6 separate regions of the Homo sapiens genome follow, and all the other regions are reported to be linked to region 1. Evidence: microRNA targets listed by miRTarBase, many of them from high-throughput screens and not tested one by one. Region 1 holds a microRNA gene; each other region holds the end of a gene's coding sequence. Distances are from middle to middle.

Region 1 (5,406 bases):
CTATCCCATCTCCCTGTCTCCTCCTTCAGTGAAACCTGAATTTTGTGATGATCAGTCCTTTGCTTTTTATTTTTCTTTCTTTCTTTTTTTCTTTTTGAGACAGATTCTAGCTCTGTCACCCAGGCTGCAGAGCAGTGGCGCAATCTCAGCTCACTACAACCCCTGCCTCCCAGGTTCAAGCGATTCTCCTGCCTCAGCCTCCCGAGAAGCTGGGACTATAGGCGCCCACCATGCCCAGCTAATTTTTGTGTTTTTAGTAGAAACAGGGTTTCACCATGTTGGCCAGGCTGGTCTTGAACTCCTGACCTCAAGTGATTCGCTGGTCTCGGCCTCCCAAAGTGCTGGGATTACAGGTGTGAGCCACCACGCCTGGCCTTTCTTTTTTTAAAATTAGAGATTTTAATTTTAATTTTAAAATTTTTTTAAAATTGTTGCCCAGGCTGGTCTCAAGCTTCCGGGCTCACATGGTCCTCTGGCCCCAGTCTCCCAAGAAGCTAGGACTACAGGCACACACCACCACACCTGACTCTTGCTTTTATTTTTTTGATAAAGCTTTTTCTGACATATGTATGTATACCTAGACAATATTCCATTTGAATTGGCTTTTTTAAAAAAAAAACTATTTTAAGGTTTTACATTATTTAGTGAATTTAACAATTGTTTTCCTATAGGTTCTGCATAATTATTACCAAGTTTACTTCTAGATATTTTATATTTGTGGGGATATATATATATATATATATATATATATATTTTTTTTTTTTTTTTTTTTTTTTTTTTTTTGAGACAGAGTCTCACTCCGTTGCCCATGCTGGAGTATAGCACAATCTCCGCTGACCACAACCTCGGCCTTCTGGGCTCAAATGATCCTCCCACTTCAGCCTCCCAAGTAGCTGGGACCACAGGCACAAACCACCATGCTCGGCTAATTTTTTTTTGGTATTTTTTGTAGAGATGGGGTTTTGCCATGTTGCCCAGGCTGGTCTTGAACTCCTGGCCTCCCAAAGTGCTAGGGACACAGGCTTGGGCTACCATGCCCAGCCTAGAGTCTTTTATGTGGGTAATCATACCATCTCCTAATAACAAAGGTATTAGAAACAGGGAAGGAACATTGTTATTTGTAAAGATATGGCTTGGCTTGGTTTTGAACTTCATGAGAAGGGTAAGGACAGCTGTCCTTTGGCGTCCTGGCGGGGATGGGGGGGAGTTGGTTCCAAGACCCCCTGAGGATACCAAAATCCACAGATGCTCAATCCCTGATATAAAATGGTGTGGTATTAAATATTTGCATATTTAGCCTACCACATCCTCCCATATACTTTAAATCATCTCTAGATTGCCGAAAACAATGTAAATGCTATGTTAATCGCTGTTACATGGTATTGTTTGGGGAACAATGACAAGAAAAAAAGTCTGTACATGTTTAGTACAGACACAACCATCCATTTTTTTCTCCAAATATTTTCCATCCGAGGTTGGTTGAATCCATGGATGTGGAACCCAGGGATACAGAGAGCCGCAAGTATCCATCTTCTGGGACTGACTTTTTCCACTCAATACCATGGTGCAAAGATTCCTTCATGATATTGGTGAACCTGTGGGTCACCTGCTTGCATTGCTGAATGATCTCCACCCTGTGAATGTGTCTACTGTAATTTATTTATCCATTCTCTTATCAGTGGGCCCTGGGGTTATTTCAGGATTTTTTTTGCTATTAGGGACAACGTGAATATTTTTGTCCCTGTCTCTTGGCGCACTTGTCAGAGAACTTATCTTGATTTGCTGCCTGGGGGGATGTGTGGGTGACAGCCTCTGTACCTCCACTTCGTGAGATAAGGCCAGATTGCTCTCCCTAGGGGGCTATTTGGAGCCGCATCCTGACTAGCCACATGCAGGAGGGCCTGCTGCTCCCCTCCTTGCCAGCTCTGGCTGAAGGACAGTTCCCTTCTGCCCTTCAGCCAGCTCTGGCTGAAGGACAGTTCCCTTCTGCCCTTCAGCCAGCTCTGGCTGAAGGACAGTTCCCTTCTGCCCTTCAGATGGTGTAAATAGCATCTCATTGTGGTCTGAATTTGCATCGCCCTCATCAGCAGTGAGGCTGAGCCTCCCTTAGATGGTATTTGAGCAAATTCGTTTTCTCTGCCCTAACATGCCTGCGCTGCGTGTGTGTTATCTATTTTTTTATATTGGATTGCTTGATTTTCTTTTCCTTGATTTGCAAGAGTTCCTTATGTATTTTTGAGGCTATGCCCCGCTGCACTCCGCAGGCATCTCCAGTTGTGACTTCCTTTTCACTTTCTCTGAGGTGTCTCCGCTTCTCTCTCCCCCCCCCACACCTGTCCCAGGGAGGCCACTTGGCATTGTTAGTGTGGGGGGAGGTCGTGTGCCTCTCAGAGCCCTGTTTAAACTGACTCCACTGTTCCTCTTGTCCCTGGGGCCTTAAGGAACCCCTTTCCTCTTCCTTCTCAGACCCCCTCCCATTTTTGGCGAAGACAACTTAGTTTGGGGAGCTCCTATTGGGTTGTGGGCGAGTATCCCGGGACAACTCGGGCCTCACTGCAATGGTGTCCCCCCCCCCCCGTCTCGGTTATTTATCACTTCCGGCTGCCCACCTGGGGGGGCTGGGCCCCCTCTCCGCTCGACTGGGCCGCAGCCGGGCAGCTCGGGCGCTCCCCTGGGGGCGGGCGGCGCGGGGGAGGGGCCCTAGGGGGGCGGGGCCGGGGGCCGGGCCTGCGGCGGGGGCTGGAGTTGGGGGGCGGAAGCTGCCGGAGCAGATAAGGGCCGAGGTCGGCCCTGCGGTGGGACAGTGCGGGACACCGCCTCCGCCCCCGGCCTCCCCAGAGCGCCCCCGCACCCTGGAGACCCCCTCCTGCTACCCAGGCTTGGCATCCCGGGAGGAGACCCCAGGGAGCAGTGGGGGATGAGGCTCCAGCCTGCTCACAGCCTCAGCGACGAGCGGCAGCGGGGCTTCACGCCTCAGTTATCTCAGCTGGAAAATGGGGGTAGGAGCTCGGTTTTCCCCACAGGGCTGTTGGTGATGGACCAAGTGCAGGCTTGTGAAGGTCTCTGTGGGTTGGGCGAGTTTTGAACAGAGGGTCCTCTAAGCATCGCATCGCCTCATTCATCCCCATTGTATAGATGGCAAAGTGGGGAGTTTCACCCAAAGCCCCAGAGCCAGCATGCAAAAAGCAAGTGGGAGGGGGTTGGAACGCTTTCCACCGCCCCACCCTGGGGACAGATCTAGGTTCCCAGGAGCCTGAAGCTTAAAACCATTTGGGGGGGCACTCTTTAAGGAAAAGATTACAAAGTCACAAATACAAAATTGCTGAGAGGCTGGGCGCAGTGGCTCACACCTGTAATCCCAGCACCTTGGGAAGCCAAGGTGGGCGGATCACTTGACGTCAGGAGTTCCAGACCAGCCTGGCCAACATGGTGAAACCCTGTCTCTACTAAAATACACAAATTAGCTGGACGTGATGGTGGGCGCCTGTAATCCCAGCTACTCGGGAGACTGAGGCAGGAGAATCGTTGAACCCGGGAGGCAGAGGTTGCAGTGAGCTGAGATGATCGCACCACTGCACTCCAGTCTGGGTGACAGAGCTAAACTCTGTCTCAAAACAAAAAACAAAAACAAAACAAAACAAAACAAAACAGCCGTTCGCGGTGGCTCACACCTGTAATCTCAACACTTTGGGAGGCCAAGGTGGGTGGATCACCTGAGGTCAGGAGTTCGAGACCAGCCTGGCCAACGTGGTGAAATCCTGTCTCTACTAAAAATACAAAACATAAAATAAAATAATTAGCCAGGCGTGGTGGCGCTCTCCTGTAGTCCCAGCTACTCGGGAGGCTGAGGCAGCAAAATTACTTGAACCCGGGAGGCAGAGGTTGCAGTGAGCCGAGATTGTGTCACTGCATTCCAGCCTGGGCAATAGAGTGAGACTTCATCAAAAAAAAAACCAAAAAAATAAAAAACAAAAACAAAATTGCTGAGACCCCTTCCAGGGCCTCAGAAGGAGCTGAGCCAGTGAGGAAGCTCAAATGCAGCTTTCTTAGTGTCTCAGCCCCACCATGCAGGCCCCCTGGAAGGGGTTATACCCCTCTCCCAAGAAAGTCAGACACCAACAAGCTTAGAGGGCAGGGTGGCCCAAGGCAATATGTCAGGGAGGTGCCGCTGCAGCTGGTCCCCAACCCCTTGCATGCCCAGGCAGCAGTCCCTCAGCCCAACCAAGAGCAAGGGCAGTCAGGTATTTGCAGACTGCAGCCTCAGCCAGGCAGGGCCAAGCCCTCCAGTCCCATCCAGTCATGGTTCAACTTGCCACCCAGGGCCCCAACCCTGCAAGCTAGGAAGGTACAGAAGAACTCCTAGGAGAAAAGGAAGGAGGGGCTCTCAGGTATATGTAAGTGCATGGGACTTGGAGTTAGACAGGATTGGGGTTCAAGCCCCTGCAAGGCTGTGTGACCTTGGGACATCTCTTTTCCCTGGGTTTCCTCGTATGTAAAATGGGAGTAATAATCGTACCTACTGGACAGAGCCGGTGCCTGAAGGAGGGCTGGGCCCATGGCTGTTAGAAACACATTTCCCTCCTGTGAGATCTCCAGGCCAGGAGAGGCATTTTCTCCCATTTTCATGTTGTCACTTACCCAGGGGGTGGTCTCTCCATTGCAGAGCTGAGATTTAAATGCGGAAATGTCTGGTGCAGATGCACTCAGGTCTCACCACCAGGAATGCTGCCTCTTTGGGCCTGTCTCCCAGGGAGTTAAGTCCCACTGTTACGTGTTCATGCCCAGGGCTGAGAGCCAAGGGGAGCCTGGCTCATCCCCTTTCTGGATTTTATCATCTCTCTGGTCCCATGGGCACCTGAGGCTGGAATTTTTTCAACTCTGATATCCTCCAGCCTGGACCAGGAGAAGCAGGACAACTGAGAATAGGGACAGGGTAGGGGAGCTGGGAAGAGGTGGTGGCCGTGGGCCTGGAGGCAGCAGTGAGACTCTAAAAGGCTTGAAGTCTTTTTCCAAAGAGATGCTGCTTTGCCTCAGGGTTTGCATGGGACTTCCACTGGATGGGCACACAGGAAAACTGAGTTCTCATCTCAGCATTGCCCCTTTCTTTTACTTTTTTTTTTTTTTTTTTTTTGAGACGGAGTCTTGCTTTGTCACCCTGTTACCTAGGCTGGAGTGCAATGGCATGATATCGGCTCACTGCAACCTCCGCCTCCTGGGTTCAAGCTATTCTTGTGCCTCAGCCTCCTGAGTAGCTGGGATTACAGCTGCCCGCCACCATGCCCAGCTAATTTTTGTATTTTTAGTAGAGATGGGGTTTCACCATGTTGGCCAGACTGGTCTCGAATTCCTGACCTCAGGTGATCCACTTGCCTTGGCTTCCCAATGTGCTGAGATTACAGGTGTGAG
Region 2 (5,406 bases), not on the chromosome of region 1:
CAGGACTCTTCTCACATGATTCTGGCCTGAGGGAGAGGAAAGGACACCTGTCAATGCTGGAGTTAGAGCTTCACTGCTTCTCAGCCAATCGATTTGACTTTAAAGCTGCTGAGATGGCCCACTGCTTTTAGGTATTTAAATACTAGACAAGGAGAGTTCTAAGGACTTCACCCAAATAAGCTGTTACTTGTCCAGAATCCCAAACCAGCTGAGATGAAATGAATACTTGAGCTTCTTCAGTGAGAAAAAAGTAAATAAATACCCAGCAGTGCTCCTATGTGACCTGGTAGACAGGGAAAATCGATGGTGTCAAGGCAAAAATGGGTCAGGTTTGGAGAGTTCCCCCACTCCTTTTGAGTGTTCAGGTTTTCCTTACCATGGCTCATGCTTTCCATCAAGCACCAGAGTTGCAGTGGCTTGGCCTCTGGTTCTGGGTGAGGTTATTTGCAGGTGGAGACGGGGGGCTGCACCTGAACATTTCTAGTGTCACCCTCCCTCTCCTTCATGGGAAACAGCTCTCCAGGGAAGTACCTTCCTGCCAGGGGAAGCCAAGGCTGGGCCGGCCGCCCTACAAGGAGCCACAGGATTGCAGCCATGGGTGCCACCTTTCATGGAAGGGGAGATTTATGGGCTTTCCTGGAACCCCCAGGCTGTCCTGGCCAAGAGGAAAGAGGTGGTTACTTCAGGAGTTTGACCTTAGTTAGATAACTAAAAGAATACATTTCCCCTCCCTTTTCTTTATTTCCTCAATAAAAATGTACAAAGTATCACCCTTCTCCATGCCCCAATCTGTGTTAAAGTCACAATCTATGGGTGTAGTTCTGGGATTCTGTCAAATTCTCCTTCCTGCTCTCCAAAATGGACAATTGTCGTAGGGACCACATGCCCCCAGAATACAATGGCCTCTGTGTTCTACTGGGGTCAAGCCTGCTAGAACTCAGCATTCATGACAGGGGCTAAGTGTGCATGAAGTGACACTGACTACAGCTAGAAAGCCAGGCGCACAAATGCCCCTTCCCCCCAGGGCCGCTCTTTCCAGCGCAGTCATCCAGAAAGGCCCACGTGCAGAGCCCCTGTGTCTCAGATGCTGCTTCAGTTGCCCGTCCTGTCCTCAGAGGCCACTGTGCTGGCCCTCTATCATTTGACCTGACTTTAGAACCTGACCTCAAGGATATGGCAGCGCTAGCCTTTAGCTCCCACAGCACGGATGGGGGTGATGCCAGTTAGAAGTGGGTAGTGAACGTTTGCTGAGCTGTTCACTGTTTCTCTCTTCTCTTTGGAAGCACCTCTCCGAGCCATGTGAGCCCCCTGATGCCACCGAGCAGGGGCAGCTTCATGACCGATGTCTGGCTGAGGCTGTGGCGGACACTCTCGGGGTTGTCTGCAGGAGAGCAAGCCAGGAGGACATGGGCCTGGACGACACGGCCTCGCAGCAAAGTGTGTCAGACGAGCAGTGACGGGCGTGCGGCCGGGCGGGGAGGCTGGCTCCCCCACACCTCCCACCTGCATTGCTCTCCCTCGTGCTCCCCAAATCACCACAACCAACCAATACCGCGATCCATGAGGGACTCCTCCTGTGGAAAAGGAGAGCTGTTCCAGAACACAGAACTGATCTCAGGTTTTTGAAAAAAAAAAAAAAAAAAAAAAAAAAATCAAACAACAACAACAAAAAAACCTCACATGATGGGGAAACAAAAAAAAGCAACAAAGAAGCCACACCACACCTCCCTGGCCAGGCACAGCGCTGCCCAGAGCGGCACACCGCGGACAGCACCACACATGTTCCAGAATCTGAAATCTCAAAAGCCATTCACTAACTTAAAACAACTCAACAGAGCCATGAAACAAATGCCCTGATGAAAATAAGACAACTGCATGTTACATCATCGGCACTTTATACATTACTGTTACCATGAAAAAGAAATGAACAGCAGCACGTCTGATACCATCAGCTGGGCAGATGCATTAAGGTTAAATCTAAGTGTCAAGAAAACCCTATTTCTTTATAATATTTATGCAGCTGTTAAGCGTAACATGGTGGCAGCTTCACAACAAGAACCGTGATCATGCATGCAGTCATGTCTCCAGTATTCTGTGAAAAGCCAGGATACGTTAGGATGTGAGTTTAGAAACTGAGTCCATTCGGTGCATGGAAATCCACCGCGGAGTCACACAATGCTCCTCACTGTAGTCCAGGCGATTGGTGGGCCGCCAGCACCCTGCGGGCTTCACAGGGACGCGTGCTTGTTCTCCAAGCCCCGCAACCCTTACTGTGCACACAACATCGCACACACCTTTGTTTTTGAAATTAAAATGTTTATAGTTATTGCTGCGTCCAGTGTTTTGAGTTATACTGAAGCTTCTCATTTCTACAAGTATATCTTTTATGGTGAGAACGACATTTGGGTAAATTCTGAGACAACTTTTCCCATCTTCAAGACCCCAGGAACCTGTATCCTTGCTGGGGTAGAGGTCCCAAAATGCAGTCCATAGAGTATCACTGGCCTGGTGAACCATCCCTTTTCAAAAGACAATAGTTAGAAGGAAATACTCAATTTTAAACAGTCACACAAATTTCTTCAAAGTATTTAGGATTTGGAAATTTGAGGAGAGGGTTGGGGGAAGGGTATTGTAGAGAATCTCTTGCCCCTTGGAAAGTAAATGGTAATGCTTTTCTAATTTTTTTTTTTGTAAACTAAGAATCAGCAATTAATAAAAGCAAGTGTACTCTATAATCACAGACAGAAGGTTCTTATTTTCAGGTCAGCACTCCCTAGAGGTGCAAACTTTATTTAATTTAAATGCAGTTGTTTGTCTAATGGGAAGCTGATAGGGCCTTGCTGCAGTTCTCTAAGGTGGCCAAATTAAACTTGGCTGGCAGCTCCTGTAATCCTCTTGGGCAACTTTACAGCCAAGCCCCAAGGGCTAAATGGCAGGCCTGGAGCTGTGAGTGTGGCCTCCCCACGGAGGGTGACTCCTTGAGTTCAGTGAGGAAAACCACGGTGCCTGGCAGTGGTCAGCCAGGAGTATGACTGGCCACTCCTTAGGCATCCAGAAGTAGGAAACACAGAAAGCATTCCACAAAACGGGGAATCTCCCCAAAGAGCTAGAAACCCAGGCTGGAAGGAAATGGCAGCGCAGGCAAGAGAGCAAGAGCACCCTGGGTGCTCCTCCATCCCGTTTCTCTGGGGAGGTTCATGAGGTGCTTCTTCAACAGTTATTCTGTTCATTGCTTATCACAGTTCACGAGTTCTCGTGGCATCTTTTGTGGGGAGGAGGGAGGATGAAAGTGACACAGTGTATCTACAACACTAAGGTCACATTAATCAGATAGGAATGCAGTGACGCTCTGCACCGTCTATGAGAGCGGGCATCTCGAGTGTGCATACCGAGGCACAGATGTGCACACACATCCGCAGGCAACTGCACCCACAGAGAAAAGGTGGCAGTATTGGAGTCACCCCAGGATTCTTGGGGGCTGTTTGACCAGCCATCAACAGTGCAGCCATACTTCTTTTTCTTTTTTATCGTGGTACACAACTTTTATATTTACAACTCATGAACTTGTTAATCTGGTCCTTCATCTAGTCAGCTATGTATCAGAAAGGACTTCCTGCAAAATGTTATATTCTAAGCCCCCATTTAGAGGAGGCATCCCTAAACTGACATTTCTTGCTAGAGTTGTTCAAATATTCTGCCAGTATATAGCTAAAGAGTTATTTTCCAGTTCAAGAGTTATTTGGGGGCTGGGCACGGTGGCTCACGCCTGTAATCCCAGCACTTTTGTAGGCTGAGGCAGGCAAATCATGAGGTCAGGAGTTCGAGACCAGCTTGGCCAACATGGTGAAACCCCGTCTCTACTAAAAATACAAAAAATTAGCTGGGCGTGGTGGCGGGTGCCTGTAATCCCAGCTACTCAGGAGGTTGAGGCAGGAGAATCGCTTGAACCCAGGAGGCGGAGGTTACAGTGAGCCGAGATAGCACCACTGCACTCCAGCTCAAGCGACAGAGTGAGACTCTGTCTCAAAAAAAAAAAAAAAAAAAAGAGTTATTTGGACACAGATCAAAATGGTTTCTCCTCTAAAGATAATATTAAAACCATAGCACTTGGTTTTATATAAATCATGTGGCCAATTTGGCATTATTGATTCTAAATTTTGCAGTGTGTTGAAATCATCTGGCAAGTAATTTGTTAAAATCATGCGATGCTTCAACTTCTTTGCCCACAAAATGTGCAATGCAATGCCTGTTTACTTAGCCCACCCGTCTCCAGCCTCATCTACCATGCTGTTTTGTCCCAAGTCACTATGCTACACAAGCATCCGCCATCAGCACACACACAGGTGTGATCCACAGACACAACCTTCTATGAATACGGTAATTGGCAGGAAAAGAAGAGGAGCAGGTCTGTTCCACATTTTCCAGCCCACCAGCGTTCCCACCCCCTTGATAACTGGAGGGCTGGGAACTGAGTGCCTGAATTTGCAGCTTTACTAGGATCTCTCCCTGTCAAGGCTGATCATCAGAGATGACACTATCCATTTAAAAGACTCACCCATCTCCCTGCATGTGCTTACCCTCACTGAGAGGTAAGAAGAAACAATTTATTAAACTATTACGTGTTAAGCAGCTGGCGGTATGATCTGCTAAGGAGGAAAAGGAAAGAATGATTTAGTAAATCGTGCTTCAAATCAGTCCTGATTCCTCCCATCCGACCTTGTTATTCTAGCTGAGATTCTTCATATAAGCAATACATGTTAATTCTGTGCTTTTCAAATTGAATTCCTCCCTGAGACTCATATCCAACCATCTGTTAGATATTTTGCTTTGTTTGAATAGGAGGCATTCCAAACTCAGGTATAAGAGAATCCCTGACTTCAATCTGCCCTGCTGCCCCCACCCCACCATCCGGCAAGAGCTCCTCACCTCAGCCGTGGCACCGACAGGGAGGTGGCGCTCAGCTCTGCTCCTCTCATCCTGGCTGCGTGCAGGGAGGGGACGGTCACGTGGAGTTCTGCCACGGCACCTCTTCTTCCTTTAAATCTCAGCATGACACTGTTGCTACAGGCTGTGTGCGTTTGGCCCTGAGTTCTAGTTATCTGTGAATTCATCTTATCCTTCATTAAATGTCATTGCCTTACAATACAGGGATTGCATCTGACATCTCCATACATGCTCCATGATCATTCTGTTTGACTAATACAACAATCATTTCAGGACCTCACCACAAGAGACACTAAACGTTCTTTGGATTTACAGCAGTTTATCACTGCTAAATGTCAACTCTGAGGTCTGGGGGCACAAAACACACTAAAAATGCTAAAGCCTCAAGAAGGACGCAGCAGGGAGTGATGAAAGAGTGAACTTTGGAGCCACGCAGACGTGGGTTCAAATCTCCTTTGTCAC
Region 3 (5,406 bases), not on the chromosome of region 1:
AACCTCCGCAACCTGGGCTCAAGCGATCCTCCCACCTCAGCCTCTCGAGACTGCAGGCATACACCACTACCTCCAGCATTTTTTTTTCCTATTTTTTGTAGAGACGGGGTTTTGCTACACACAGGCTGGTCTTGAACTGGGCTCAAGCGATCTGCCCACTTTGGCCTCCCAAAGTGCTGGGGTTACAGGCACGGGCCACGGCACCTGGCCATAGGGAAACTTTAAACAGCCAGCGGTTCCCACACCACCGCCACGGGCAGGAGGTTGAGTGGCAATTCCTAAATAGCTGCTCTCTGCTCAGGTTAAAAGGGCACCCCCCCTCCCAATGGGCAACTTCCTTCGGGTATTTCCTAGTGGCCCCAAAGACCAAGATTGGCCCATCCCAGTTCAGAGCTTGTAACAGTTTGCCCTAAAGGGAAAATGCAAGGCTCAAGGCAGGAGGGGGAGCAGTGAGGAGCTAGAGAGTATTGAAGCCCACCTCCACAGGTGACGACAAAAGGAGAAAACACAGGGTGCTTCTAAAAGCACCGGCCCTGGCCGGGATGGCAATTCCAGTTCTGTCTGCTGCTAGCTTGCTATGTACCCTGGGCCAGTTGCTTCCTCTCTGTGGAAGTGACAGTTGTTTCATCTGCAAGTGAGGGAGGGAGGTGAGAATTTCTGAGGGCCCCTTCTACCCTTAGAACATCACAGCCAGCCTCCCTTTCTCCCACTTTGAGACAGCAGCGGTTTGGGCTTCTGCTTTCTCTTTCCTTTTAGTTTTAAATTAGCCCCCATCGCTTCTCCCGATTAAACTTTGGCCACAGAAGCAATCTCCAGTGTCATTTTGGAGAGAGCTGAGCAGGAGGGACACTCAGTGGAAGCTCCTTAAGCACCAGAACCACATTGGTTTGTATGTTTTGCACCTAGCACGTGGCATGGAACATAGGAGCCACTCATTAAGTGTAAACTGCATGCATGCATGAATGGGGTGCTCTGGTTCAGAACAGTGGCTACTCTCCTCCTCTGCTAAAACTCCAAGAAAAAAATGTGGTTTGTTCAGCTGGCACCGAGCTCTTAGTAGGACCGTTGCAAAAGGCTCCCGAATGGCACCCTGCCTTCCTACATTTGTCCTCAGAGCATAGCTAGACGCACACCTTCCCCACTCAAGAACTCCAAAGGCTTCCCCTAGGTTATCAGAGAAAATCCTGACATTTAAAGTCCTCCTTAATTGGAGACAAACTGTCACTTCTCATCTTGTCTACCTCACCTCACAAACTCTTAGGGTTTCCTTCCTGCTACCGACCAGTACCAGAATGCAACTACCTTAACTGAAAATTATGTGGAAAATGCATGCTGAGGCATTAGGGAGGCATCAGACAGCTACTGCCCGATTTTAGCTGTCCTCATTCCTGGTTTCTAGGCCTCCTCTTCTGTGTTCCCCTCAGCTCCATGGGCTCTCCTCACTTCTATTCCCTGATTCCACTCTTCTTTCCTTTCTGCCCCAAGCCCATTTCCCTCAGTATATATTTTAAGGCACTTTTCTTTTTGGGTTCAAATGCCTTTGTGATCTGCAGCTGACGGACTTCATGAAATCAAAGCCATAAAGCATCATGGGCTCCACCTTTCAGCCCCTACAACTGAGCCTGGTTCGGGGCAGGTAGTGAGACTGACTCCGAGCCAGGCACGCACCCTGCCAAGCACCTCCACGTGGTGCCTCCTTTTATTCCCACAAGGCTACAGGATAGGTGGAATTGGAATGAGGAGCCCTGTTTTACAGAGAAGGAAACCGAAGCTCCTGTGCTGACGGTCAGTTAGTTACAAAGGTCTTAATCCAAAACTCTGAACCATTTTGTTAATTTATCTTTCAGTAACAGTTCAATTAAGTTAGACAAATATCCCAAAAAGCTCTTAGCTGGCCCTCAAGGCACTTGAGTTCACAGCCCAGAAGAAAGGAAGTAAAGACACGGTAAGGTAACTTTTCTTTGTTTCAGACTCATTATGTCAGAGATTAAGAGAGAGCTCTTCAAAATTGTTGGATCCAACCCCCCACTATAAAGTTGGAGTAACTGAGGCCCAGTGAGGGCAATGGCTGGTCTGAGGTCACAAGTGAGGGAGGGACGAGACCAGACTCTCTCACCTGCCTGTTGCTGTCTTCACAGCTATGAAAACAAACACATGCGCCGCGCACGGTGGCTCACGCCTGTAATCCCAGCACTTTGGGAGGCCAAGGCGGGTGGATCACCTGAGATCAGGAGTTCGAGACCAGCCTGACCAACATGGAGAAACTCCATCTCTATTAAAAATACAAAATTAGCCAGGTGTGGTAGCACATGTCTGTAATCCCAGCTACTCGGGAAGCTGAGGCAGGAGAATCGCTTGAACCCGGGAGGCAGAGGTGGCAGTGAGCCAAATTCATGCCATTGCACTCCAGCCTGGGCAACAAGAGCGAAAGTCCATCTCAAAAAAAAAAAAAAAGAAGAAAAAGAAAAGAAAGAAAAGAAAACAAACACGCGCTAACCTGCAATAAACTAGTCTGGTCAGCCAGGGTAGGGAGAAGTGCCCTTTGGCCAGCAGCCAGCCCCATGCCATGGTCACTGGACAATCTTAGACCAAAGCCACAGACCAGAAGTAGGGCAGCGGGGGAGGGAAGGCAGAGGAACTGCAGTTGCGCCTACTTGCTTATCAGTGACCTGCATGAAGGAAACTTTCCATGCACCTCTCCAGATCAAGATCACATCGGGCACCCTTGCATAGTTCAAAAGAGGAAGTTTGGGCTTGGTTGAAATGGATGAAGAGCATACAGAAATGTCCAGACAGCGAGAGGGGATGAGGGGGAACCTGAGGCCCGGAGCAGGGCTGGGCCAGCCTTCCCAGGCTTGCTGCAAACTCAGATTCTCCTGTGCGCTTCCCGGGAAACACCTTGCAAGAATTTAAAGACGTAACTCGCTCCTGGACAGACTTTACAACCTCAAGCTCTAATGAGGAAAATCCAGGCTGCAGGCTCTAGGTAGAAGACAGAGGCCCTCACTGGAAATGTGTTTATGTGTTTGTGTATCTCTTTTTATTTCTTCCTTAGAAATAAAAAGTGTCAAGGGAATGAATCGGAGGCATACTTTAGGAAGTTAATGTTAGAAGGGAAGCCAAGATTTTTTTGTCCAACTGTCTCATTGTAGATAAGAAAATAGAGACTCAGGGAGGGAAAGGGGCTGGCCTAAGGTCAGAAACAAGTGCATGGCAGATGCAGATTTGAACCCAGGCATCCAAATTCCTGGTCCAGTACTCTAGCGCGGCCTGGATGGAGATGGGTGGTGAAATGGATGGGAAGATTTGTCAGTTTGCCCCAGCACATTTACTATCCTTCCCACCACCCCGCCCAGCACATTCAACTGGCCCCTGCCACCAACCCCCTCATTCAAAGTACAGACACTACTCATTTTACAGACAGAGGTTCAGGATGTTTTTGGATCTGACATAGCCCAAACCAGGGCAGAGGCTGTAGCAAGGGGAGGAAGCTGGGAAAGCCTGAGGGTCAGAGGGGAGTGGAGGTGGACAGGATCTATGGCTACGGTTTTTCAGCCGCTCAGCCGTGCTGGGCCCTCGATGGCCCGTGGGAGTGGGAGCGTTTCCTAAGCTCCACTGAAGATAAGAGCCCAACCCAACCCCTCCCCCCACCCCTGCCCCTTCCTTAGTCTCTGGAGCTGGAACAATCAGGCTTGGCCATGGCGGCTGGTGCTGATAACCATTTCTTGGCAGAAGTGCCCGCCAAAGCTGTGGCCCTAGTCCTCACCACCACAGAGAGCCAGCAAGGCCTTCAGGAAGTCTCCGGAGGTGTCACCCTGGCAGAGGCAGAGAGCAGAGTGAGTGAAAACAGTCCTTCCAGTCTCAATGCCCCCTCCTCCCGGCTGCCCATCTGTCTGGACATCTCCCTCGGCTTCTCTCCATGACCAACATAGGATCCCATGCCACATGTAGGCTACTGGGATCTCCCAGACACATAAATGTGACCACGTCCCTTTTGTTTATCCCCAGGAAGATATGCAAGCTCCCGGCCTGGCTTCAAGGCCCTTTGGGATCTGACCTGTGCAGAGCTCTGCAGCTTCACCTGTTCCTTTCCCCCAGGAGCATCTCAGTCCTCTCTCCACCTGTCACTCCCCTGTCCAACATGCCCCTGTGCACCCCCAATCCCATTTGCCAGCAGGGCCCTCTCCTCTGAGAAGCACTCTGGCCACTCTCTTGCGTCAGGAGGCACAGTGAACTCTGGCCTCCCTTGGTTCCCCTGGCACTCTGCTGATACCCTCCCCCATGGCCCTTGGCATATCGTGTTAGGTGATTTCTTATTTGAACAAACAACATTGAGTGCTAACTGCCAAGCCATTGCTGGGAATGGGTACAAACACCATCACGCTCACCACACATCACAGTGGTCTGGTATACGTTCAGACTGGGGAGGCCAAACTTCCTGACCCATGGTATGGTATGGATCTCCCTTCTGAGGGACTCCTATCATTGTTATGAGACATGGTTTTCGGGATTTTGTTTGTCCTTGTATTTTTTGATGTATGATTTTAAAACATAATATAGTATCAAAATGTGCCAACAATTTACTTACATTCCTACTAAGTCTGTAAGAGACTGCCTCTGAGATGCCCATAGTCTCGTTAGCCAAGTAGAACCAAGCATCAGACTTTAAGATCTTGGCTGATCTCAAAGAGCAAAAATATAAGCTCCATATGTCAAAAAAGTCAGACGCAGCCAGGTGTGGTGGCTCACACCTGTAATCCCAGCACTTTGGGAGGCCAAGGCAGGTGGATCACTTGAGGTCAGGAGCTAGCAACCAGCCTGGCCAACACAGTGAAACCCTGTCTGTACTAAAAATACAAAAATTAGCCAGGCATAGTGATGCATGCCTGCAGTCCCAGCTACTCGGGAGGCTGAGGCAGGAGAATTGCTTAAACCCAGGAGGTGGACGTTGCAGTGAGATGAGATGGCACTGCTGCACTCCAGCCTGGGCGACAGAGCAAGACTCCGTCTCAAAAACAAACAAACAAACAAAAAGTCAGACACAAAGGGTCACATATTAGGTGATTCCATTTATATGAAATATTCAGAAAAGGCAAATCTACAGAGACACAAAGTAGCTTGGTGGTTGCCTATGGCTGGGGATGGAACTAGATAAACAGGTATGAGAGAGCTTAGTGGGATGATAGAAGTGTTTGGAAACCAGCTGCATTATGGGAATGGTTGTACAACTCAGTAAATTTACTAAAAACTGTTGAATTGTACCCTTAAAACAGGTGAATTTTATGATATGTAAGTTTTTCGTTTGTTTGTTTGTCTGTTTTTGAGATGGAGTCTTGCTCTGTTGCCCAGGCTGGAGTGCAGTGGCGTGATCTCAGCTCACTGCAACCTCTACCTCCTGGGTTCAAG
Region 4 (3,000 bases), not on the chromosome of region 1:
TCCCAGGCCCCAGGGAGGGGCAGGGGCCCCATCCTGCAGATGCTACAGACACTAAGGCTTCCAGCAGACCTGGCACACTGTGTTCAGCTCTGCAGATGACAAGGCAAGGTCCTCAGCCTGCAGCACTTGGGGAGGCCCAGCCTCCCAGTCTGGGGAAGGTAAGGCTTTGGGGTTCGTTCTTTCCATGTCAGACTTTCAGGATCCAAGACCCTTCTGGCTTACCGTGCCAGATCTTCTCTTTTTTTCTTCCCACTACAGGATGCTCGCTCTATGGCAGCAGCTGCTGCATCCCTCGGGGGACCCCGAGCAAACACAGTCCTGGAGCGTGTGGAAGGTGCCCAGCAGCGGTGGAAGCTGCAGGTGCAGGAGCAGCGGAAGACAGTCTTCGATCGGCACAAGATGCTCAGCTAGATGGGCTGGTGTGGTTGGGTCAAGGCCCCAACACCATGGCTGCCAGCTTCCAGGCTGGACAAAGCAGGGGGCTACTTCTCCCTTCCCTCGGTTCCAGTCTTCCCTTTAAAAGCCTGTGGCATTTTTCCTCCTTCTCCCTAACTTTAGAAATGTTGTACTTGGCTATTTTGATTAGGGAAGAGGGATGTGGTCTCTGATCTCTGTTGTCTTCTTGGGTCTTTGGGGTTGAAGGGAGGGGGAAGGCAGGCCAGAAGGGAATGGAGACATTCGAGGCGGCCTCAGGAGTGGATGCGATCTGTCTCTCCTGGCTCCACTCTTGCCGCCTTCCAGCTCTGAGTCTTGGGAATGTTGTTACCCTTGGAAGATAAAGCTGGGTCTTCAGGAACTCAGTGTCTGGGAGGAAAGCATGGCCCAGCATTCAGCATGTGTTCCTTTCTGCAGTGGTTCTTATCACCACCTCCCTCCCAGCCCCAGCGCCTCAGCCCCAGCCCCAGCTCCAGCCCTGAGGACAGCTCTGATGGGAGAGCTGGGCCCCCTGAGCCCACTGGGTCTTCAGGGTGCACTGGAAGCTGGTGTTCGCTGTCCCCTGTGCACTTCTCGCACTGGGGCATGGAGTGCCCATGCATACTCTGCTGCCGGTCCCCTCACCTGCACTTGAGGGGTCTGGGCAGTCCCTCCTCTCCCCAGTGTCCACAGTCACTGAGCCAGACGGTCGGTTGGAACATGAGACTCGAGGCTGAGCGTGGATCTGAACACCACAGCCCCTGTACTTGGGTTGCCTCTTGTCCCTGAACTTCGTTGTACCAGTGCATGGAGAGAAAATTTTGTCCTCTTGTCTTAGAGTTGTGTGTAAATCAAGGAAGCCATCATTAAATTGTTTTATTTCTCTCACTTTCTGGTTTTTAAGAGATTTAGGGAACTAGGAATTTTTCACAAGTGACCTGGTAAATGTAGTATCCCAGAGGGGACAGAGAGCATTGCGTTTTGCTAGGTCCAGACAGGCAGAGCCTTGGGAAGTCCAGGCGGCCGTGGCAGAGCCAGCCACAGTGCAATCAGGCCAAGGCCACGGCTTGCTGGAAGTCCTCCTCACCTGATTAGGAAAGAGGTGGGTAGGCTGGGGCAAGGAGCACAGGGTGAACTGGCCCTTGGGAGTTATCCTGAGATTTTACTTCATGTTTATGGGCAGTTCCTCTGAAACTGAACAGTGCGTGATTCATCCTAATATCCTACAGACACAGTAAATAGCGCTCCCTGCAAAACCTGTAAGTATCCCCAAATGAAAACCAACAGGTATTTGGAGAGGGGTGGGTGGGGGCAGCTAGAAAACGAGCTGCCCCATACAGAAGGAAATGCCAGCAGCTTCAACAGGGACATCCAGGGGAGCCCGGCACTGCGTCAGCTCCAGTATGGATGTGCGGTGCAGGGCATGTCCAAGACCCAGGCAGAGGCAAGGCATCTAGAGGGACTGAGCTGATCTGGTGTCATCAGGGTTGTCCAAATAAACATGGATTAAGAACCTTTGTGGGCTGGGCGCGGTGGCTCACGCCTGTAATCCCAGCACATTGGGAGGCCGAGGCGGGCGGATCATGAGGTCAGGAGATCAAGACCATCCTGGCTAACACGGTGAAACCCCATCTCTACTAAAAAAAATACAAAAAATTTGCTGGGCATGGTGGCGAGCACCTGTAGTCCCAGCTACTCGGGAGGCTGAGGCAGGAGAATGGCATGAACCCGGCAGGCGGAGCTTGCAGTGAGCTGAGATCGCGCCACTGCACTCCAGCCTGGGGAACAAAGCAAGACTCCGTCTCAAAACAAAACAAAACAAACAAAAAAAAACCTTTGTGTGGGCCCCCATGCTGGGTTCTTGGAGAGGTGTGGGAGGCAAGAGAACGACGTGAGATGGGGGGTCAGTTTGCAACAGTTTGCCAAAGTTCCAAGACAGAAGCGTAAAGGGGATGGGACTGGGGTGACCTGCAGATGGGGCTCCCAGGAGGAGCAGAGACTCTGGTTGGCATTGGAAACAAGGGACACAGCTGAGAGGGGACCAAGTGGATTGTGGGGTCCTGAGCAAGTGCACTTAGGAAGTTTGTGGTAGGGCTAGCAAGCGATAGATGTGCCCCCAAATGCAAGGCTGGGACAGAGGAGTTGGTGCTGACAACATTTCTACTGGGTCATTTACTAGACAGCTGCTCAGTGCCTACCAGGGTCAAGTACTGCTGTGGAAGCTACAGTGGGCTATTTTATTCTTTCAGGATGGGGATGCTCTTATTTCAAGAGGCATACAAAAGCAGCACTTTCCAAAGGTGGGCAGGTGGGTGTATTAACTTAGCAAGAATAACCAGGCCAGAAATTGGTGCCTAACATTGCCAGGTCTCCCCTGTAAAACCACATGCCCTGGGGGAAACATTGAGTGCTATATTTCTCTGAGGCTTGGGTAAGTCCTGCAGATGATCCAAACTGGCTTTGGTGGTTTTTGGGACAACTGTTGTTAACTATAAATAAGCCGAACTATAAGTCCAGTATATGAACATTTATAAAAGATTAGGAGTGACTGTTCACTTTACTAAGGATTCAACTAGTAACCAAACG
Region 5 (5,406 bases), not on the chromosome of region 1:
GCAGTGAAGGAAAACAAATACCAGAGTCTTGCTTTGTAGTTCTCTGCTTTATATTCCTGATTCTGCCCAAAAACACAGAGAAAGGATCTTTCTATGTCTCTTTGGTCCACAAAATGGCTCTTCTAATCTAATGGTAGAGGCCATTGCCCTGATTTTACTGGTAGAGTGACAAAGAACAATGTACTAAATGTTTGGTAGGGTCAGGTAGTCTTGGCTTCCTTGTTGAAATTTTCCCAGGAACACACAGTTTTTAAACGAGGTCTGGCTTTAGGCGAAAGGAATCAAAGGAGATTGGATAATGTGGTATTAGCTAATAGATTGCCTGAAATCACTGAGCATAGCTTCTGGCATAGTTAGGCACCATCATTTCATTATTATTATTTTTTTTTTAAACGTGGTGCATCACCAGCCCTCTTTCTCTGTGTTTTCGGGCAGAATCAGGAATATAAAGCAGAGAACTACAAAGCAAGACTCTTGCATTTGTTTTCCTTCACTGCCTCAATCTTAAACGTCTTCCCTCTTGGACTCCATATTGACATGGTAAAAAGTCACACATGTGTCTACTATGGAAAGAGTTCACTCCAAATTTTGAGCCGATCCATCTGTGCTTTTTAAAATCATCTTTGTTCCATGGACTCCTGATTATTTTATACAAATGAATCCAGGCCCTAACTGAATTACTAGTAACCCTGCAAGGTAAGTTGATAGGGTTGCCAATAATATGCATAAATACTACCTTAAGGGAGGTCAAAAGCATCTCTTTTGAAGGAGAGCCTAAGAGTTGGTTATATTGAATATACTTAGATCTAAATATAAGAAATATGAATCATTGAGAGACTCCAGAAATTTTTTACTGATGCCTGAATAGCTGCCTCAAGGATAAGTCCTATGCGAGAGGGGCAATTAAGTGGTTTGAACTTTGGCCTCAATTTGAGAAGTGTTGTGGCACTGGATTTAGGGTCTTCTCTGCAGAGCCCACCAGCAACCCCATGTAATGACTTGTTTAGGGAGGTGCTTCCCATGTGCTGCAATTGCATTCAGCTGCAGGAGGTTGAAGGGCCTTCAAAACAGATGCCATGCATTCGACTTTGTCACAGTTATTTTCAACAAAGAACAGAGTGAGTGAAGTAGAAATTGCTTTTGAGAGGCCAGAGAGGAATAGGAAAACCTTCCTTGGCAGTGCAATGACTAATTGTTTCCCCTTCACAGAAGAAAAGCCAAAAAATCCTCAACTGTCATATGCACAAGGAAGAGGTTTGCTGATAGAATTCTGTGTCAGGGCTGGGGAGCAAACTGGTGATGTGGCTGCAGAATCTTTCTCCTTATGGGGTTGGCAAAGGGGGGCGCTGCCTTCATTGGCAAGACAAGGCAGGCAGAAAATTGAGAGTGACCGAGCATGCCCTTGGGGTGAATTACCAGGGTCTGCTTTCTGTAATGCAGATAATTGCCTCAATTCCCTGCCTCCCTTTGAAGTTAATGAAGAGTTGGCTAAGGCCTGCTTACCTCTGGAAGGGACTCAGCTTGGTTCTGGACATGTGTTCCACTGGTGAAAATCACAGGAAATTCACAGAACACACTGACATTCTGTTTTTCAGGTTCAAGAAGAATAGCATCCCCTGCTTTGAAAGGACAACAGCTGGAGAAGTACAAGGAAGGTGCTGTTTCATGGCCAAAAACTTAGGTTGCATGGAAACATTTTTAAAAACATGTTTAAATTGCTTTTCACACCATATAAACAAGGCAATTAGAAAAATAATTAAAGGGAATATCATTGCTTCCACAGTTAATGGGGATTTTTTGATCCTCAAATGCAAGTAAACTACCTTCTAATGCTTCACATGACAGATTAAATAAATGGAAGAACCTTTTCAATTCTGATGTTTAAAAAATGAATAAATACTTGATCCTTTGTCCATATTTCCTCTTAATGGGTAGGACTCATAGAAGATGTCCTTAGACCAGTCACGCTTCATGGGGACTAGGGCATGTTGGTGAATGGTTTTTACTAAAGTTAGGCAACTTTGGCTTGATTCACCCCTAAATCTATGAATGTATATTGTGAGCCAGCAGTGGTAGAATGGAAGTCATAAGATCTCCTCAGCATTGTGATATAAATATAGCTATAGTTAGGCAATTTGAACATGTAGGCAAAACTCTCCTAATCAACACACATGTAGGCTATATGCTGGTACATGCTTTAAACATGGAGGTAACCCCACACGAGACATTCAGTGACAGGTAATATGCTGGATTTGTGCAGTACCGATTTGGCTCAGCTGGAGGAACATGTCCCGGAATTCCTCTCTCTCATGGTTCTGGATTGGAGTAGGTCATAAAGAAATTTGCATTAATTTGATCAGCAGCTATTTTATACTCATAAGGTCAGTGTACAGACCCAAGCATGGTGACAGCTTGAAAATATGACTCCAGGCCAAAAAGGGGAGCTAGAAGAGACCAGAGACAGCTCCCTGGACCCAGAGCTCTTCCAGCTCCTGCCAGCCTCCTCCTTCAGCTTTGCAAAGTACTGGCCAGGTGTGTGTGCAGCTCCATGGCAACCAGCATCAGCTTTTCCTGAGATCACACACAGCATTGCAGTGGAGGCCGTGAGACAGACATGGGTTCTGTTTGTTCTTATGGACTTCCCTTCATCCTTGCTGCATTCACAGTCGACCTACAGTGACTTCAGGCCCAGAACCAGATGCAGAGGGAACAGCCTGGCCTAGACTTCTCCACCAGCACCCACAATTGTGTAAGGCTGAAGCTCTATAATAAATCTTTATTCTGTCATTCTCTGATTCTGCCTCCCTGATCCAACCCTGACTCATATGGGTAGCTTGACGATTAATTCAGGGACTCAGTGGTATCAGAGGACCCAGGTTCATTCTTGTCGGAATCTCTTGTCGCCGTAAGAGGACTTCAGCAGTCCTGAGCATTTTCTCCCCATACGATAACCTGTCTCTTCTTAAAATGGAGAAACACTTTCCCAGAAACAGACCTCTGGAATAATTTTCCTCATACCCTAGTGAGCAGATTTCTTTATCTGCTTATGCTGAACCAGTCTAGTGGCAAGAGGACTGCAATTGTCAGGGTTGGCTCAGACAGATCAAAGTGGATGCTCTTGAAAAATCAGGGTACCATTTTGAGCAAGGTGAACCAAATTTGAGTTTTGTGGTTGGCGGAGAGGGATGCACAGCCACAGAGTGAACTAGCAGGTATGTGTGTCGGGCTGTATCCAAAGCAGTCGCTCCTTCTTACCATCGGTCTTAACGCAATGAGAAAACAACATGAAACATTTAACATGGAACTTTTCTAGGGTTTTTTTTTTTTCCTGGAATAGTAATTTTTTAAAACTTCAGTAAAAAATGTTTGGAATTATCCTTTAATAAGCCAATGTTTATATTCAGGAAACATCTCTATATCCCAAACCTTTTCTTAGAAATTTGCTGTTGTCATATTACCAATCCTGAAGTTAGGATGCTATTGTTTCTCCACACCCCAGGCACATACTCAGTAAAGTAAAACTTCAGCTTGGGGATGCATCCAGTTTTGTTATTAAGTATCATGTTCTCTCACTAGGACACAATTTTTAAAAAGGAACCAAGGCTAGGGGGAAGCAGAGATGGTAGACAAATATTATCTCAATGGAGTTTTTCTTCACAATGGAATTTTTTTAAAAGATATCTAAGTTATATTTATTTTTTTAAAAAAAATTTACTTTAAGTAAGTTCTGGGATACACGTGCAGAACATGCAGGTTTGTTACATAGGTATATGTGTGCCATGGTGGTTTGCTGTACCTATTGAACCGTCCTCTAGGTTCCCTCCCCCGCCCCCCACCCTGCAACAGGCCCTGGTGTGTGTTGTTCCCCTCCCTGTGTCCATGTGTTCTCCTTGTTCAGCTCCCACTTATGAGTGAGAACATGTGGTTTGGTTTTCTGTTCCTGTGTTAGTTTGCTGATAATGATGGCTTCCAGCTTCATCCATGTCCATGCAAAGGACATGATCTCATTCCTTTTCATGGCTGCATAGTATTCCATGGTGTTTGTATCACATTTTCTTTATCCAGTCTACCATTGATGGGTATTCGGGTTGGTTCCATGTCTTTACTATTGTAAATAGTGCAATAAACATACATGTGCATGTGTCTTTATAGTAGAATGATTTATAATCCTTTGGGTATATACCCAGTAATGGGATTGCTGGTTCAAATGGTATTTCTGTTTCTAGATCCTTGAGGAATCGCCACACAGTCTTCCACAATGGTTGAACTAATTTACATTCCCACCAAGAGTGTAAAGGCATTCCTGTTTCTCCACAGCCTTGCCAGCATCTATTGTTTGACTTTTTAATAATTAACATTCTGACTGGAATTCTTAATACTTTGCTATTTGTGATAACCCATCACAACATTGTAGCAAAAACAGAGTTAACTACATACAAGGAGAGGATTGTGAAACTGAGGTCAGATAAAATTGGACCAGGTGGCAGTTACACCACAATTCAGAATTTGCTTTCTCTTATAGAGTTGAAACCTTGATCTACTAAGTCACACAAAAGCCTGGTTATAGTGACAAGTTCACAAGCATTAACATTAGACTGTTTCTTTTATGTAAATTGATGACTAAAATTAAGGGAAACAGATTAGGTTAGCTGAGTTCTCCCTTCTCTTGCTTAAAAATTTATATGAAAATCTAAATTTATTAGAAGATTGATTAGCAATATGCCAATTGAGCCAGAAGAGTTGTTTAAATTATCTTCATGGCTAGTCACTCAACTATGCAAGCCTTGTGTGGTCAAGTGTAACCTAACTTCAGAGATTCTTATGTTCATAGTTTCATGTGCATCCATGTGAAGAGACCACCAAACAGGCTTTGTGTGAGCAATAAAGCTGTTTATTTCACCTGGGTGCAGGTGGGCTGAGTCCGAAAAGAGAGTCAGCGAAGGGTGATGGATTATCATTAGTTCTTATAGGTTTTGGGTTAGGCGGTGAAGTTAAGAGCAATGTTTTGTGGGCAGGGTGGATCTCACAAAGTACATTCTCAAGGGTGGGGAGAATTACAAAGAACCTTCTTAAGGGTGGGGAAGATTACAAAGTACCTTCTTAAGGGTGGGGGAGATTACAAAGTACATTGATCAGTTAGGGTGGGGCAGGAACAAATCACAATGGTGGAATGTCATCAGTTAAGGCTATTTTTACTTCTTTTGTGGATCTTCAGTTACTTTAGGCCATCTGGATGTATACGTGCAAATCACAGGGGATGCGATGCTTGGCTTGGGCTCAGAGGCCTGACACATAGGGCCCTTTTCCCTAGCAATCTTAAAGATACTGTCTTAGTCTTTGGTGCCCTAAGATTCATCCCAAATCGAGTTGGTTACCCTGATACAACCGTTCATATAAAACTAGACT
Region 6 (5,406 bases), 87 Mb from region 1:
AAGAAACAGATTCCAGCCACGCAGTCTTCAGCCCTGGAGATTCAGATCGTGGGCAGTGCCAAAGATGCTGGAGGCTCCGTGAAATCTGTTTCTCCCTAGAAGCTACTGTTTCGTCAACCTTGTCCCCCACCCCAAATAAAATCAGAAAATTTCACATTTGAACCTTACCCCAGTTTCCTCAGCACAAAAAGGGCAGAGGAATAAATTAAATCAGTTCAACCCCAAATATTTTAGATCACAAATCAAAAATAAAGACAGAGAGCATGGAAAAATAACAAGAAATACTCGGCTCAATCCACCCGGCTTCAGTCTTCCCCCAAGCGCATGGTTGTGGGACTAAGCACCTCAAAGGAGGGCACAGACCCCGCCAGCCTGCTGGGAAAAAGGCGTCCTTCCTGCTAAGAAAGTAGGATCTCAAAAGGCCTGTCCTACCCCCAGTCTCTCCAGGGAAGCTGCTTAGAGGCAGACTGGCAGCAGGCAGGGCCACTCCCAGATGCTGGGCCCAGAGCCACCCCAACAATCCAGCACAGGACCCCGCTCAGCACCAGGGAGCCCACGGCAGCCCACCAGCAAATCAAGACAGGCTTCGCCTCTCTGCCTCGTCGTACATCTTCTCTCCCCACGCAAATGCAGTTGTCCAGGCCCCGCTAAGAACCGTTTTCCCCTCTTCCTGGTCTGTGGGTCACCTGACACTACAACAGCCACAGTTCTCAGCCATGATGCTGAAGAGGCAGACAGACATCTGAGACACAGAAGCAGGTTTACATCTGAGTCGTGTCTACTGCAAGGCCGCCAGACCGTAAAAGGGGAAGTTTGGAAGGCGTGATCTCCTACAGAGTGAGTGCCGAAGTCCTAAGAAGCTGATCAGTAGTCACTGCCATTGTTCAAAGGCAGACTATGAAGGACACTGGTCCCTAGAGGTGGTTACACCCCCATCACCCACATGCTCACAACCACGCTGTCACACATGCCCACACCCAGCACCTAAACTTGTGCCTGTGACATCTTCACCCTCTATCCACGGAGGGAACTGCGTTCCACCAATCCCATCGCCGTCCACGGGCTGCAGGAGGGCTGCTGGCCTCCGAGGACACTGTCACAGGAGGAAGCCCTCAGGGGAGCTGAATGAGTGGCAGGCCACTGAGAGATGGGCAGACCTGACGTCCTTGCCCTAGCCAGGGAAGCCACAGCACAGCAGCCACTCGGTGACCAGCGAAAAGCACGGCTCCCCGCGTTGGGTCTACGTGCTGAGGTCATGGGCACTGCCAGAGGAAGCGGAGGAGGAGTCAGCACCTGGGTTAGCACGGGGGTGCCCTGGAAGGCACAGCCATGGCCTGAGCATCTCAGCCTCTCATGACATCCGAAAGAAGCAAAGCCTTCTACCTCATCATCTCCTCTTCTTTTCTAACCTGAGGGCTGGAATTCCCAGGAGGGTGCTCAGAAAAGTAGGCCAAATTCATCCTGAAGGCTGACAGCCTGATGCCCACATCCCAGTGCATCCCAGGGCCTGGCTGAGCCCCGTGAGCTCCTCTGGGGTAGAAATCTCACACTGCCAGTGCATAAAGGCTGCACGTCAGCTTGCGGTAAGCCCCCACCTCCCACCCCAACACCTCAGGTAAGCCGGCTCCCGTCATCCCCCAGGAGAGACGCCCAAGTGAGCAGCACATCACGACGCGGGGGCAGAGGGTGTGCTACCTGGAAAAAAGAACACAAAGAGTTGTGTGCTCTTCCATCTCGCAGAGCTGGTGCCCAGTGGTCAAGTGGATTCCAACGCCCCAGAGAAGCACATCAACTGGAAGGCCCAGGTTCCACCCCAAGGGTGCACGGCCCAGTCTCAGAAGCCCCTGCGTGCCTCTCTCACCATGACCCCTTCAGATGTGTTCAGAAAGGAACTGCGGTGGTGTTACTTGCACGGTAAACCTCAAGGGTGGAGCTGGTCCTCAGCTCCCTGGGTGAAAGGAAGGACCAGGGCCGGTGTGGCACAGAAGAAGTCCATCCCCTAAGATGGAAACGCCAAGAAGAGACAGCAGCCATCCAAGGCCTCATCCTGCGAGGTCACTGGGCCAAGCCCATGGCAGCTGCATGAGACCAGCAGAAGCCATCCAATGCTGCCGTGGCTCACGTCCAAGCAGGGAACTCGGGAGAGGTGGGTGCCCCCAAACCCACCAAGACAGCAGCACCAAGAAGGAAATACTTCAAGGAACCTTCATTCTAAGCCAAGCCAGAAGGGGGGCTCCTACACAAGAGTGGGGGAGGGGCAGATCTCCCCTCCACCCCGCCCTCGGGGCCTTCTGCCCTGCCCTTGGGCAGCACCATATCTTACCGGCAGAGAGACATCTTAGTGGGAAGATGATCTCAGGAAGCTTCTGGATGCTACGAGTTTGAACCAGGACCAGACTTTGGCAGAGGAAGAGTCAGTGCCCAGACCCTACTCACCACCCCTCCCGCCTTCATTCCTACGCCTCAGCCACAGAATAGAACTGGGCAAAGAGGGCAGGATCCAGAGCGTCCCAGGCCCCAGCAGCCAGAGGCGCCCTAGCTTCACCTGAGCTCATCCCCCTGCAGCTCAGGTCCACCGGAGGACGAAGGCCCCGGGGCAGAGAAGAGTCGGCAGGCAGCACGTGGTGAGTGCGGGAAAGCCACAGGCGGCTCCGCACAAGTGGTAATTAATCAATCTGGAGAATTAGCTCCCACAAAAGCAAAGGAGGATCCAATCAGCCGCTGTGGAACAGCACTGCACAGAGTGCTGAGCCGGGGACGGTATAAATAGAGCCGGCAGCTTGGCGCTAGCACAGGTGGCTCCGCAGTGGGGAGACTTTGGCCACAGAGCTCACGGCCTGGCTGGGCGGAAGGGCGCCGACGGATGCGCTGGACATGTGCACCAGAGGCTTGCTTTAGCCCCGCGGCTGAGTTAGCCTCTACTCCTGCAGCGTGAGCCACGCTGGAAGGAAGAAAGATGCAGGTCTAGGAGCCTGGCCACCCCTTCTTCACCCAGGAACCAAGAAACAAAGGCTTGAATTTAGTTCTGCAGTAACTCATTACTGAACCCCCATAGAAGGCAGCCGGTAATCACAGCAAGGCCCCATTTCTGCTCTGGGTGGGAGAAGGTAGGAGACACACGGAGAATTCAGCTGAGAGACACGGATCTTGTTTTGGGAGAAAGAATCCCCCAAGACAGATGTCAGGCACCTGGCCAACGTGCAGCCAGCCCTGCTCGCAAACCCCAGCTGGCCACTGCCCTCCTCCTCCTGCCTCCACTGACCACAGAGAGCAACAGCACTTTGCCTCAATGTACATATATATATATATATATACACACATAGAGAAACCCACACACTACAGACATATGCATCTGTATCTATATCTATATATATGTGGGGTGTGGAAGATGGACATTAAGTCCAGCCTTCTTCCAGGACTTGAAAAACTGAAACAGAAGCAGAGAGCAGTAAAAGCCATTGCTTTCCTCTTCACTTCCAAAGACATTGGAAGAGATGAGAAAAATCAACCTAGTGAAGCAGGGGGCGGAGGGGAGGAGACAGGTGTTGCCCAGTCTCCAATCCACTTCCTGACCTCGACCCACAGGTGGAAGGTGTGCCCACCCTCCGTCCTGAAGACAGGCGGCCAGGATCTGGAGGGAGACACCCGCTCTGGCAAAAGAGGGGGCATGCAGGACAAAGGTCTGGGCCGCCCTTGGCAGACGGAGGAGGACACACCCCCACACAGTGGCCCTCCCTGCCTGAGCCCAGCAACCTCGCCCCGGGGACACCTAGAGTGGGGTGGAGTCACAGCAAAGTGGCATGTCCTGGGTCATCGTGGTCCACACTGTTGAGAATCGCTGTCTGGTCTTCCGGAAGCTGGCGGTGGCACAAGTCTGAGAGCCGGGCAAAGGGGTCAGGACGAGAATGTCTCTTCTTCTTTCGGAGGCAGACAGCTTCATCGGGCCACAGAACCTGAGAGTTGGGAAGCTGCTGAGTCTGGGAGGCAGAATCGTCTAGGAAGAAAGGAAGAGGGACGCAAAAGAGAAGCAAGCGGATGAAAAGGAAGCACGCAGCCTGCTCACCTTTTCCACCTGCATTTGTTCCGGGTTTCTAATGTTGAAACAAAGGAATCACCTGAGTCTAGAGAGACCAGACCGAATTGCTGCAGAGAAACCACCTTCTTTTCCGCCAAGACAACCAGCAACCTGACCCTGCTCCTTTCACTTGAATAAGAGTTAAGAAAGTGGAATGGAGAGGATTTTCCTTCTCATTCATTTCTTTCTCGATCAGTCTACAAATATTTCTTTTAGTGCCTCTTGAGTACTAGGCATCATTCTAGGGACTGGGGATCAGGAAGGAACAGGCTGGGACTCAGGACATCTTTCTCATCTGCCCCAAGCAATGACCGACTTTATACAAGATTTTAATCGCATGCAACGGTCAGGCCTTGACCCTTCCTGGACTGCCTGGGCCTCTCCTCTGCCTCATGGCCCTTCTGGAGATTAATCAGGAATGCCTTTGCTAGCTTCAAAGACTATGCATCCATGTGAGGGTGCAGAGGAAGAGACAAACTGTCAAGACTTTAAAAACACAGAAATAAAATTTGCAGTTACTGAAAATACTACAAAGATAAAATAGGGTCAACTGAGGCACTACTCCGCTCCTTAAAGGGTTAACACTTGAATTGCATCTTAAATTATGAGCCTTCCACAGATCTGAAGAAAAATTATTCCCAACAGAAGAAATGGCATGTGTGCAAGCCCCAAGTTAAGGGTAAATGTGGTGTGTCCCCGATACAGAAGGGAGGTCATCTCAGTTGGAAAAGAGTGAGGCAAGAAAGACAGGCAGGGCATCTAGGAGCTTGAAATCTGTTCTGGTTACGATGGGAATCTGGTTACGATGGGGAGGTTTTAATCAGAAGTGTGTGTGTGTTTGTGTATGTGCACACACGCCTGCACGTGTGTGTTCGTAACTGAAAGAGAGGATGCCGCTACGTGTCCTGCAGTTCGCCGTGGTGGCTGTGTGTGGAGTCCACGGTGCAAGGTACAAGGATAGGGCTGGAACACCAGCCACGAGGTACTGCAATAGTCAAGGTGGGACAGACAGTGACTCAGAACACAGAGTTAGCAATAGAGACAACAGAAAGTGGCCAGATTCAGGATATGTTGCAAAGGCTGAGCTAACAGGCATTACCTAGCGGGCTCGACGTAAGATGTGAAGGCAAGGGAAGAATCTGGGAATTAAGGGGCCTGACACCCCAGTGGGTACCAGTGCTAGTGATTAAACCGAGGAAGAGCTGAGGAGAAGCAGACCTGGAGAGGCTGATCAATAACTCTGCTTTAGACATCGTAAAGGCGTATGAAACACCCAAGTGCACGTTCAGCTGGCAACTGGAAATATCAGCCATGACCTCAGGGAAGGGACC

The links. The annotated mature microRNA hsa-miR-4487 reads AGAGCUGGCUGAAGGGCAG and lies in region 1 at 1,987-2,005, opposite strand. An mRNA with a match to its seed (bases 2 to 7 or 8) in the 3' UTR can be bound and repressed. Matches are read on the target gene's strand: a 7mer-m8 pairs with bases 2 to 8, a 7mer-A1 pairs with bases 2 to 7 and ends in A, and an 8mer does both.
Region 2: the mRNA of PCNX2 is a reported target of hsa-miR-4487. The part of its 3' UTR that is shown has no 7-base or 8-base seed match.
Region 3: the mRNA of ANXA6 is a reported target of hsa-miR-4487. Seed matches in the 3' UTR shown: 7mer-m8 at 3,675-3,681.
Region 4: miRTarBase lists TMEM9 as a target of hsa-miR-4487. Seed matches in the 3' UTR shown: 7mer-m8 at 738-744 and 7mer-m8 at 902-908.
Region 5: miRTarBase lists MYH15 as a target of hsa-miR-4487. Seed matches in the 3' UTR shown: 7mer-m8 at 2,486-2,492.
Region 6: miRTarBase lists IGSF9B as a target of hsa-miR-4487. Seed matches in the 3' UTR shown: 7mer-m8 at 1,931-1,937 and 7mer-m8 at 1,740-1,746.

The regions. Positions count from the first base shown.
Region 1 is chr11:47,397,583-47,402,988 of GRCh38, reverse strand. MIR4487 (microRNA 4487) reads right to left here and starts at 2,019; the gene lies at 1,947-2,019. All of the region lies in intron 2 of SLC39A13-AS1 (SLC39A13 antisense RNA 1), which reads left to right. RefSeq lists an enhancer at 1,551-2,551 and a silencer at 2,601-2,960.
Region 2 is chr1:232,980,355-232,985,760 of GRCh38, reverse strand. PCNX2 (pecanex 2) reads left to right here. Exons shown (of 34, transcript NM_014801.4): 34 at 1,284-2,326. The coding sequence ends at 1,457. It overlaps NTPCR (nucleoside-triphosphatase, cancer-related), which reads right to left. Exons shown (of 5, transcript NM_032324.3): 5 at 1,879-5,406. Among named protein-coding and RNA genes, the nearest start is that of NTPCR, 32 kb to the right of the region's middle.
Region 3 is chr5:151,097,693-151,103,098 of GRCh38, forward strand. It overlaps ANXA6 (annexin A6), which reads right to left. Exons shown (of 26, transcript NM_001155.5): 26 at 3,014-3,815. The coding sequence ends at 3,756. Among named protein-coding and RNA genes, the nearest start is that of TNIP1, 19 kb to the left of the region's middle. RefSeq lists enhancers at 714-823, 1,014-1,063.
Region 4 is chr1:201,133,074-201,136,073 of GRCh38, reverse strand. TMEM9 (transmembrane protein 9) reads left to right here. Exons shown (of 5, transcript NM_001288565.2): 5 at 259-1,302. The coding sequence ends at 411. Among named protein-coding and RNA genes, the nearest start is that of ASCL5, 7.4 kb to the right of the region's middle. RefSeq lists a silencer at 1,321-1,527.
Region 5 is chr3:108,377,749-108,383,154 of GRCh38, reverse strand. It overlaps MYH15 (myosin heavy chain 15), which reads left to right. Exons shown (of 41, transcript NM_014981.3): 41 at 1,596-2,787. The coding sequence ends at 1,610. It overlaps LOC124900545 (a long non-coding RNA gene), which reads right to left and starts at 1,615. Exons shown (of 2, transcript XR_007095998.1): 1 at 1,504-1,615. HHLA2 (HHLA2 member of B7 family) reads right to left here. Exons shown (of 10, transcript NM_001282556.2): 10 at 4,870-5,406. RefSeq lists an enhancer at 5,167-5,406.
Region 6 is chr11:133,905,284-133,910,689 of GRCh38, forward strand. It overlaps IGSF9B (immunoglobulin superfamily member 9B), which reads right to left. Exons shown (of 20, transcript NM_001277285.4): 20 at 1-3,994. The coding sequence ends at 3,786. Among named protein-coding and RNA genes, the nearest start is that of MIR4697, 9.4 kb to the left of the region's middle.